Linked DNA regions of Homo sapiens: region 1 is linked to region 2. Evidence: fine-mapped expression QTL. A gene starts in region 2. The other region holds a variant in brackets. All regions are shown on one strand. Distances are from middle to middle. Region 1 holds the start of YIF1B (Yip1 interacting factor homolog B, membrane trafficking protein). Region 2 holds the start of PSMD8 (proteasome 26S subunit, non-ATPase 8).

Region 1 (5,347 bases), 56 kb before region 2:
TACAAATCTCCTTCTCCTGGGTAACTTTTCATGATCAGAATTATCCTCTTCCATGCCGGGTGCGGTGGCTCACGCCTGTAATCCCAGCACTTTGGGAGGCCTAGGCGGGCGGATCACCTGAGGTCGGGAGTTTGAGACCAGCTTGACCAACATGGAGAAACCCCGTCTATACCACCCCGGGCGTGGTGGCCTGCGCCTGTAATCCCAGCTACTTGGGAGGCTGAGGCAGGAGAATCGCTTGAACCCGGGAGGCGGAGGTTGCGGTGACCTGAGATCGCGCCATTGCACTCCAGCCTTGGCAACAAGAACAAAACTAGGTCTCAAAAAAAAAAAAAAAAGAAAAAGAAGTATCCTCTTCCAGGAAGCTTCACTGACACCCCTAGGCTGGGTCATGTGCCTCCTCAGGGCTCCCACAACATCTCCATCCCAACACAGGGCCTGACACATGGGAGTTGAGACAAGTTAGGTTGAATGAATAAATGAAACACACAGCACACTCACGGAGATGAAGAGACAGGAAAAGGGGGCCAACAGCACAATACAGGTTCGCTTCTTAAATGAGCGGTAGGCATGGCCCTCTGCGCTCCCGGGGGGCCACGAAGCTGTCCTAAGGGTGTGGGCGACAGCAGGCGGGTACTGGGGAGCCACGGAAGGGTGGGGAGCAGGGAAGGGCGGATCGCTAACTGCAAATGAATGAAAGTTGCATTTCTCTGCATATCGCACGCTATCCAGTCCCAAGTTGTTTTCTTCTAAAGGAATTTCCTAAAGAATCGCCCCCCAAGGGGCCTCCTACCCGAACCTGGCATCCCAGCGCTGTGCACACCTCAGGGTTCCAGATCCTTGATCTCGTGACCTCTGACCTGCAGTGACCTCGCCAACCGACGCGGCCGCCCCGCCACGCCCCCGCCCGCCCGATCTCCTCCGCCGGCCACGTACGCCACTTACGCAGCCGGGGCGTCCCCGCAGCCGCCGCCGCCAAGCCTGCCGGGTGCATCCTTCGCCGCCGCCACCTAAGCCGCGGTTCGGAGCGTGCCCGCCCGGCTCCCGTACCCACGCCCCGCCGGCGAAGAGACAGCCAATGGACGTCAGGATTGAGGGAAGGCCTCGCCCCCACCCCCCCGACCCCTCCAGCCCCCCCCTTCACGGAGGCCTGGACGACTGGGCGGTGCCTTACGTAAGAGGCGGAGACTGGGCTACTGGGCTCATGCAGTAAAGCGAGTCAAGGCCTGAGTGGCAGGAGGGCGAGGCCGGGACCAATCCCAGGAGGAGGCGGTGTCTGCCACGACAGAAAATGAGTGTCTGCCCCTTGCCGGGGCTCACGCCCCTAACTCCAGCACTTTGGGAGGCCGAGGCGGGAGGATTGCTTCAGCCCAGGGATTCGAGACTAGCCTGAGCAACATAGTGACCCTCGCCCCGCCCCATCCCTACAATTTTTTTTTTTTTTAATTTAGCCAGGCTCAGTGGCTTAACGCCTGTAATCTCAGCACTTTGGAAGGCTGAGGATCGCTTGAGCCCAGGAGTTCGAGACCAGCCTGGGCAACAGCGAGATCTCCATCGCTACAAAACATTTTTTAAAATGTAAATATCGAGCGAAAAGGTCGATGGGAAATGCAGTTCTCTGCAGACAGCCGTTCAGTTTGGGTCATTGAGAGCACTGGAGAGCCAGAAAAGGCTGTGGAGCAAGGAAAAGAGAAACATTTGTGTTCCTGAGGGGCTAATTGGAGTTGTAGGGGCTTATACAATTTTTGACATCCCTTAGGTATTAAAGTAAATATTTATTTATTTTGAGACAGGGTCTTCCTCTGTTTTCCAGGCTGCCTCGGACCCCCTGAGCTCAAGTGATCCTCCTGCCTCAGCCTCCCCAGTAACTGGCACCACAGGCATGCACCACCATGCCCAGCTAATTTTTAAATTTTTTGTCAAAACAGGATCTTGCTATGTTGCCCAGGCTGGTCTCGAATTCCTGGGCTCAAGCCATCCTCCTGCTTCAGCCTCCTAAAGCATTAGGATTACAGACATGAGCCACAGTGCCCGGCCTTAAAGTGAATATTTAGAGTGAGAAAAGGAAACCCAACAAGTTAGGTGAGAAGAACCAGGTGTCTCTCTTGGAATAGATCTTAAGGCAGTTTCCCAGAAATTCATAAAAATGTTCTCACATTGCAACCTGGTTCCCTCTGTCCACCAAAAGCATTCTACAACCCCCAGCAACTCACAGCACACAGGCGCACCTGCAAGTGAAGAGCCCTGCC[C/T]ACCTAGCGTCCTTAGTCTCTCCTCTCTCTGACTCTCAGTCTCCCCCCTTCTCTCCCTCTCAGACTCCCCGACTTATCTCAGGAAAACATAGTGGTGGAAGTTACTTCTGCGCAGCGATAGCGCATCCGGAAGGATGTCAGCAAGTGACCCTATCGCTGTGGCTTCCTCTTCCTCCTCTGAGACGTTGTCTTTTTGGAGACCTTAAGGGCTGCTCCTGGTTTCTCAGTGATGAGTGCTGGCTCCACTGTGGTTCCTTTTTGTGAGCGAAATGCCCGCATTCTTCTTCACCTCTGATTTAGCCTCTGTCCCCTGGGCTCCAACACCATTTTCTCCTCATCCTCAGCCCTCTCTTGCTCTGGTTGCTCCAGATACATCTCTTCCATAAATGTTTTTTTTTTTCTTATTGCTTTTTTGTTTGTTTTTTGAGATGGAGTCTTGCTCTGTCGCCCAGGCTGGAGTGCAGTGATGCGATCTCGGCTCACTGCAACCTTTGCCTCCTGGGTTCAAGTGATTCTCCTGCTTCAGCCTCCCGATAGCTGAGATTACAGGCGTGTGCCATCGCACCTGGCTAATTTTTTGTATTTTTAGTAGAGACAGGGTTTCGCCATGTTGGCCAGGCTGGTCTCGAACTCCTGACCTCAGGTGATCCACCTGCCTTGGCCTCCCAAAGCACTGAGATTACAGGCATGAAACACCGCACCCAGCCTTATGTATATATATTTAATTAATAAAGCAAGTACTGCCAAGTGCAGCGGATCACGCCTGTAATCCCAGCACTTTGGGAGGCCAAGGCGGGCAGATCACCTGAGGTCAGTTTGAGACCATCCTTGCCAACATGGCGAAACCCTGTCTCTACTTAAAATACAAAAATTAGCTGGGTGTTGTGGCGGGCATCTATAATTCCAGCTACTTAGGAGGCTGAGGCAGGAGAATTGCTTGAACCCAGGAGGCAGAGGTTGCAGCGAGCCGAGATTGTGCCATTGCACTCCAGCCTGGGAGACAGAGCGAGACTCTTGTCTCAAAAAAAAAAAAAAAAAAAAAAAAAAAGCAAGTTCATTAGTTCATTGGCTTCCTGCTGGCCTCATGTTCACCCCTTACCAGTTGTGTGACTACTACTTTTTATTTTTTTGAGGCAGGGTCTACTCTATCACCCATACTGGAGTGCAGTGGTGCGACCATAACTCATTGCAGTCTCTAATTCCTGAGCTCAAACGATCCTCCTGCCTCAGCCTCCCGAGTAGCTGGGACTACAGACGCATGCCACCACACTTGGCTAATTTTTGTATTTTTTGTCGAGATGGGGTTTTGCCATGTTGCCCGAGCTGGTCTCAAATGACTACTTCATTTTTAAGCCTAAATTTTCTCATCTGTTTAGTGGGAATTATATTGGGACGGGGTTGAGAATTCAGTGCAAGTTCAGGTGTCCACAGGGCCTGGCAGAATGTAAGCCTTCGATCACTGGCACCTATTGTGTTACTGATTCTATTATCAGGTGCCTCTGCTTCTGGATTGTCAACCCCAAGTTGGGCTCTGCCCGGTGATCTGCCAGCTCTTTAATAGAACCAGCTGGGACATGTCTGAGCTGAGCCCCAAGCCCCACTCCTCTGCCAGTCGGATGGGGTTAGGACTCTGGGCTGCCCTCCAAAAGGCTGTCAGGAAGGCGCTGAGTTCTGGCTGGAGGCAGAAGTGGAGAGACTTACGGGGGGGCGCAGAAAGAAAAATTTCCTCTTAAATAGAGGCGTGTATTTGTGATTCTGCCTGGCTTGTTTCCATTCATCCTTCATGCTTCAGCTCAGCTAGCCCCTTCCTCAGGAAGCTCTCTTGACCTCCCTAGGCAGGGGTGGTTGCTTCCTCTGGACTCCCAGGGCCCTCTAGGGCTCCCTGATTCCAGGCTTGATCATTGTACCCTTGCTTCCCTCATCACAGCCCTGACCACTCTGGGCTGTCTTTTTTCTTTTTTTTAGAGATAGGGTCTCACTCTCTCCCAGGCATAGCTCACTGCAGCCTCGAACTCCTGGGCTCAAGCAATCCTCCGACCTCAGCCTCCCGAGTAGCTGGGACAACAGGCGTGGGTCACTCTTGTGTCAGTCTCCCAGTTAGACTGGGAGCCCCATGAATGCATGGCGCAGGATGGTCTCATCATTACTGAGTCTCCAGGATCATCCAGCGAGGGGTCAGCAGAAAGTGGGCATTGAACAAAGCTTTGGTGAGTAGCTGAGGATCCCCACTCTGTCCACACGGGCACAGGGGACACCTGACTCTGTGGTGTCCGCTGTTCCCACTCCGAGGCTCACAACTTGGCGAATGGAGCGAGAATTGGATTTCAGTTTGCCCCTTGCTCCGTCAGCCGCGCGCCCTGATGCAGTGCACAACCTTAGCTGCTGTGCGCGATGGGGGGCGACTCCTCGGCCTGCGAGCAGAGAGGAAAGTTCAGATTCTTCTAACATAGAGAACCAGCCTTCCAGGAGGACGAGAAGGAAGGAATGAGGGGAAGAGAGGACTACCTCCACCCTTTCCATCCCGTTGGTCTGCTGGGTCTGGGAGCACTGGGCTCCACCCTCTCCGAACGAACACCTGGCGGTTGGGCGTGCCTCAGTTTCCCGGAGGCGGGGCATTCCTCCGTCGCCGCCCCCCACCTCCCCTTTTTCCTCTTCCTCTTGGGGCATCTGCTGCCGCGCCTGTAGCACTCCCGGAACTGGAACTAGGTGCCAGACGGTCCGGAGGCGGGGGCCACGTCAGCGGGGCCACCCAGGGCTCGCGGGGTCCCGGTGGGTGCCATGCGGAGGGGCGCGCTTCTGGCGGGCGCCTTGGCCGCGTACGCCGCGTACCTGGTGCTGGGCGCGCTGTTGGTGGCGCGGCTGGAGGGGCCGCACGAAGCCAGGCTCCGAGCCGAGCTGGAGACGCTGCGGGCGCAGCTGCTTCAGCGCAGCCCGTGTGTGGCTGCCCCCGCCCTGGACGCCTTCGTGGAGCGAGTGCTGGCGGCCGGACGGCTGGGGCGGGTCGTGCTTGCTAACGCTTCGGGGTCCGCCAACGCCTCGGACCCCGCCTGGGACTTCGCCTCTGCTCTCTTCTTCGCCAGCACGCTGATCACCACCGT
Region 2 (5,369 bases):
GAAGTTGCCGTGAGCCAAGATTGCGCCACTGCACTCCAGTCTGGGCAACAGACCAAGACTCCGACTCAACAAAACAAAACAATAAATAAAATATCAAAAACCTTCTAGGCCACCTGTTAAATAGTGGCTTCTCTGTGTGCCTGTTGGCTGAGCCTCTCCCCAGTGTACCCCAGACCTCCCTGTGGTCCAGCAGGATCCTCCACAATCCAGGCCCATTGCTATGGCCGACCATCTGTTCTGATTGTTCAGTGTTAAATATTCTGAATGTCAACACCTATCTAATGTCTTAAGGAGGGGACCCTGGAGACGTCAGGATTCTTATTTTAGTTGCAAGTAGCAAATATTTCCCTCAAATGGTCTACATGAAAATGGTAATTTACAGGCTTCAGGTACAGTTTGATCCAAAGTCCCAAGGTCCACAGGATTCAGCCTTCATTTCTCTGTAGTTTTTTCTTCTCTGTCCTCCTCAGAGTGCAGTCTCTGACCTCAGGACAACTCCCCTCACCATCTGAGGCTAGTTATACAGTCCATAATCTGGATGGATGCGTAGTGACCAATGAATTGACAAGATGGAGGAATGAAGGCAGGAGGAAATAAATGAGTAAAAAAATACCCTGTTGCATGGTAGGCATTTGGTCAGCATTAATAGATGAATGAATGAAGGAGCGAATGAGGAAAGGTATGAGATTGCACCTAGTTGGTGCTCACCCAGAGTGTTGGGTTGGAGGAATACATTGGGGTTGGCATTGACTAGGCATGGTTGGTAGCACAAAAACCTGATGAAATTTGACAATAACAAGAGTTGGCAACACTCATGTGTGTAAGGGCTGCTGGCTAAGGTTGTTTCCACCACCAAGATTCTACCGAGTCACCTCATGGTCCAGGTGAACACATCATAATCCTGTATCAGCCAAGTCAACATGTTATTTAAATATCACCATCTGCACTTCCAGCCAAGATAGAGTGACAGAGACTGGATTTCCCCTCATACTTGAAACTATTTATGTTTTTTGAGATGGAGTCTCGCTCTGTTACCCAGGCTGGAGTGCAGTGGTGTGATCTCGGCTCACTGCAACCTCCGCCTCCTGGGTTCGAGCGATTCTCCTGCCTCAGCCTCCTGAGTAGCTGGGACTACAGACGCATGCCACTATGCCCGGCTAATTTTTTGTATTTTTAGTAGAGACGGGGTTTCACTGTGTTAGCCAGACTGGTCTCCATCTCCTGACCTCGTGATCTGCCCGCCTCAGCCTCCCGAAGTGCTGGGATTACAGGCATGAGCCACCTGGCCTGGCCATATCAACGTGGTATTTTGTTTATTTGTGTCTTTTTCTTTTTTTTTTTGAGATGGAGTTTTGCTCGTTGCCTAGGCTGGAGTGCAATGGTGCGATCTTGGCTCACTGCAACCTCCACCTCCCAAGTTCAAGTGATTCTCCTGCCTCAGCCTCCCGAGTGAGTAACTGGGATTGCAGGCACCCGCCACCATACCTGGATAGATAATTTTTTGTATAGTAGAGACGGAGTTTCACCATGTTGGCTAGGCTGGTCTCAAACTCCTGACCTCAGGTGATCCATCCACTTCAGCCTCCCAAAGTGCTGAGATTACAGACTTGAGCCACCACACCCGGCCATCATTTTTGTTTAAAACATTTTTTACCACCACAACTTCTTTCACATATTAATTTACTCATTAATTCAACACATATATAATTTCTTTCTTTTTCTTTTTTTCTTTTTTCTTTTTTTTTTTTTGAGCACAGTCTCGCTCTGTCACCCAGGCAGGAGTGCAATGGCGATCTCAGTTCACTGCAACCTCTGCCTCCCGGGTTCAAGTGCTTCTCCTGCCTCAGCCTCCCAAGTAGCTGTACTACAGATGTGCACCACCACGCCCGGCAAATTTTTGGTATTTTTACATTTATTTATTTATTTTCTCTGAGACAGAGTCTCACTCTGTCACCCAGGCTGGAGTGCAGCGGCACAATCTCAGCTCACTACAAGCTGACCTCCTGGGTTTAAGCGATTCTCCTGCCTCGGGCTCCTGAGTATCTGGGATTACAGGTGTGTGCCACCACGCACAGCTGGTTTTTTTGTTTTTTTTTTTTGGTATTTGCAGTACAGATGGGGTTTCGCCATGTTGGCCAGGTTGGTCTCGAACTCCTGACCTCAAGTGATCTATCTGCCTCGGCTTCCCAAAGTGCTGGGATTACAGGCATGAGCCACCATGCCTGGCCAACAAATATTTATTGACTGTCTACTAATATTTGCCAAGCACTGAGATACTGGGAATTCAGTAGTGAAGGAAATCGTCCTGCCTTCATGGAGATGACATTCTAAATGGTGGAGACGGAGAGTGAAAGTCGGGTTTGAGAAAAACGTGCTGCCCAGGCGCAGTGGCTCACACCTCTAATCCCAACACTTTGCGAGGTCAAGGCAGGAATATCGCTTGAGCTCAGGAGTTCGAGACCAGCCTGGGCAGTATAATGAGACTCTGTCTCTATAAAAAATTTAATTTTTTTTAAAAAGAGAGAAAAAGCGATGTTGAATGTGCAGATGTAATATCAATCAGTGGAGGAAGAAGTTGGTATAAGAAGTTGTGAATACTGGCCAGGCAAGGTGGCTCATGCCTGTAATCCCAGCATTTCGGGAGGCCAGGGCCCAGGGAATCGCCTGAGTTCAGGAGTTGGAGACCAGCCTGACCAACATCTACTAAAAATACTAAAATTACGTCTCTACTAAAAATACGAAAATTAGCCAGGCGTGGTGGCACATGCTTGTAATCCCAGCTACTTGGGAAGCTGGGGCAGAAGAATCACTTGTACCCAGGAGGCGGAGGATGCAGTGAGCCAAGATTGCTCCATTGCACTCCAGCCTGGACAACAAGAGCTAAACTCCGTCTCAAAAAAAAAAAATTGTGAATCCTCCACTTACACATGACATTGAAAGCCATAGAGCTGGATGAGTTTTGTAACTAGTTAGTTCATATAAGCTTGGGAAAAAAATGTGGAAGGATGCATTGAAAAAGACTGGAGAGGGAGCCCCAGGTACACATCCTAGCTGTTAGTCCTTTGGAAGGTTACCCAGCCTCTCAGTCTGTCTATAAAATGAGAATAACACAGCTCTCCAAATGGCACGACACCCGCTACCTTTTGGCTTGGAGACGCTGCCCCGAAGGCGGAACCTCCAGGACAGCTACGTAGCGTCCCGAGCACTCAGACTGAAGCCAGGGCAGCCATGTTCATTATTGGAACCGTGAGGTGGGTAGGGGGGGTGGTGTTGAGACAGCTGTCATTTTCAGTTAGGGCAAAAGCCAACTTCCGGTCACCATCTTGAGTGACGACAGAGGCGGAGCTCCAACTGACATGTTCATTAAGGGCAGGGCTCCGAGGGCGCCACCTCGAGAGCGACGGCGGGCTACCCGGGGCGGGCTGAGGCAGGTTGTAGCCCCGCCCCGGGCCTTGGGCTCCACCTCTCGGCCCCACTTCCGCCGGGCAAGCGTTTGTAGGCGGCGCTGCCGTAAATCAGGCGGTCTGCTTGCCGCATCACGCAAGATGGCGGCCGCGGCGGTGAACGGGGCGGCAGGCTTCTCGAGCTCCGGGCCCGCGGCAACCTCGGGCGCTGTTCTGCAGGCCGCGACCGGCATGTACGAGCAACTCAAGGGCGAGTGGAACCGTAAAAGCCCCAATCTTAGCAAGTGCGGGGAAGAGCTGGGTCGACTCAAGGTAAAGTCGGCAGGCCCAGGAAACCGAGTGTTGCGGGCGTGGGAGGCGCTACGAGGTGTCTGGACCCAACCAAGTCCCGGGCCGCGGAAGCCACCTCGGTGCCAGCGAGACTGAGGCGGGCTGGGGGATCCGATGGGGTGAAAGATTTGGAACAGCCAAAGTGGGGGCTCGGAGGGCGTCAAGAAGCGAGAGAGGGACAGGGAGCGTTGATGGTCACGCCTGTAATCGCAGCGCTTTGGGAGGCCGAGGCGGGGGAGCGTCGCTTGAGCCCAGGAGTTCAAGATCAGCCTGAGCAACATAGCGAGACTCTGTCTCTACATTTTTTTTTTAAGTGAGAGATGACTGGAATGGACCCACGCGGGGGTGGTGGGGGAATGATTGGAAGACTTATGGCAGAACTGAGTGAGGGGTTAGATTTTTGGTGCGTGGAGGCTTAACTGGTCGGAGTGGCAGGATTGGGATTCGGGCTTTTCCTGATGGTGGATTCCAGGCAAGACCAAGTGGGAAGTGAGGACTGCCCGGAGTGATAAAAGAATGAGGCTGAAAAGGTGGGCTGTGTAGAGGGTGTGTGGTTAAGACCAGGCTGGGTTAGGATCTGAGAGATCTGGGGCTTAGGCTCGCATCTGTTGGGAGAGGGGGCAGCCTAGTTGTGAAGGCAGGACTGAACCTAGAAGAAATATTCTTACAAGTAGAGAACAAGAATACGGGGCCCAGAGTGCTTCAGACCAAACATCTGTTGGGAGGGAGTGTAAATCCAGTGGCTTGGAACAAGCTGCTGAGCCTGCTAAGGAAAGATGTATGGGCTGAACTGTGGGGGGAGATTTGGACCTCCCCCTCCCAGATATAGATTTTGGGGATAGCCCAGCTACCCCTTCCCCAATAGATTGTGGGGAAGATGGGCCAAGAATGGAATGTACTCCTGTCCCCACCGCCGCGTGATTCCACTGGGTCAGGCACTGAGTGTCCCTCCTTGTTTCCCCAGTGGGGCTATTAATAATTGTAATGTGATGTAATCTTAAATGGGCATGTGTTGCGTGCTCAGGCCCTGTTCTGAGTGCTTTATGAGAAAGCATTCCTCATGAGTCTGGATGATGGTTAGCTCCATTTTCCAAGTGGGAAGACCAGAGCGTAGAGCAGGTAAGTCATCTGTATTTGAATTCCCTTCTTTTCTTTCTTCCCTCCCTCCCCTCCCCATCAGCTAGTTCTTCTGGAGCTCAACTTCTTGCCAACCACAGGGACCAAGCTGACCAAACAGCAGCTAATTCTGGCCCGTGAGTGTCACTGGGGTTGGTTGGGGGTGATAATCTGGGGGTCATGGCAGGAATGGTAGCACTGGTGGTTGGGGAAGAGACCTCAGTCACCTCCTGAGAGCTCACTCTGTCACCCACAGGTGACATACTGGAGATCGGGGCCCAATGGAGCATCCTACGCAAGGACATCCCCTCCTTCGAGCGCTACATGGCCCAGCTCAAATGCTACTACTTTGATTACAAGTGAGAATGGGCCCTGCCCCCAACTGGGGGGGTGGTTGCATGGAAGCTCCTTTATTTCTGGAGCTCTGGCTGCTTGGGTCCTCTTCCTTCATCTGGGAACTCCTCCTGGCTTAGTTCTCTCCTCAGTGGTGCAGGGTCAGGGCTTGGCTTGGAGGTCCTG

Evidence for each region. PIP is the estimated chance that this variant, and not a neighbour inherited with it, causes the effect.
Region 1: its variant is fine-mapped to the expression of PSMD8 in tibial nerve (GTEx, PIP 0.91).

The regions. Positions count from the first base shown.
Region 1 is chr19:38,314,924-38,320,270 of GRCh38, forward strand. YIF1B (Yip1 interacting factor homolog B, membrane trafficking protein) reads right to left here and starts at 1,024. Exons shown (of 8, transcript NM_001039672.3): 1 at 937-1,024. The coding sequence starts at 994. KCNK6 (potassium two pore domain channel subfamily K member 6) reads left to right here and starts at 4,922. Exons shown (of 3, transcript NM_004823.3): 1 at 4,922-5,347. The coding sequence starts at 5,028. RefSeq lists silencers at 859-1,348, 5,015-5,104 and an enhancer at 4,750-5,347. The variant C/T (reference allele first, on the strand shown) is at 2,250.
Region 2 is chr19:38,371,246-38,376,614 of GRCh38, forward strand. PSMD8 (proteasome 26S subunit, non-ATPase 8) reads left to right here and starts at 3,326. Exons shown (of 7, transcript NM_002812.5): 1 at 3,326-3,716; 2 at 4,915-4,987; 3 at 5,107-5,209. The coding sequence starts at 3,357. RefSeq lists enhancers at 3,235-3,865, 3,496-3,635.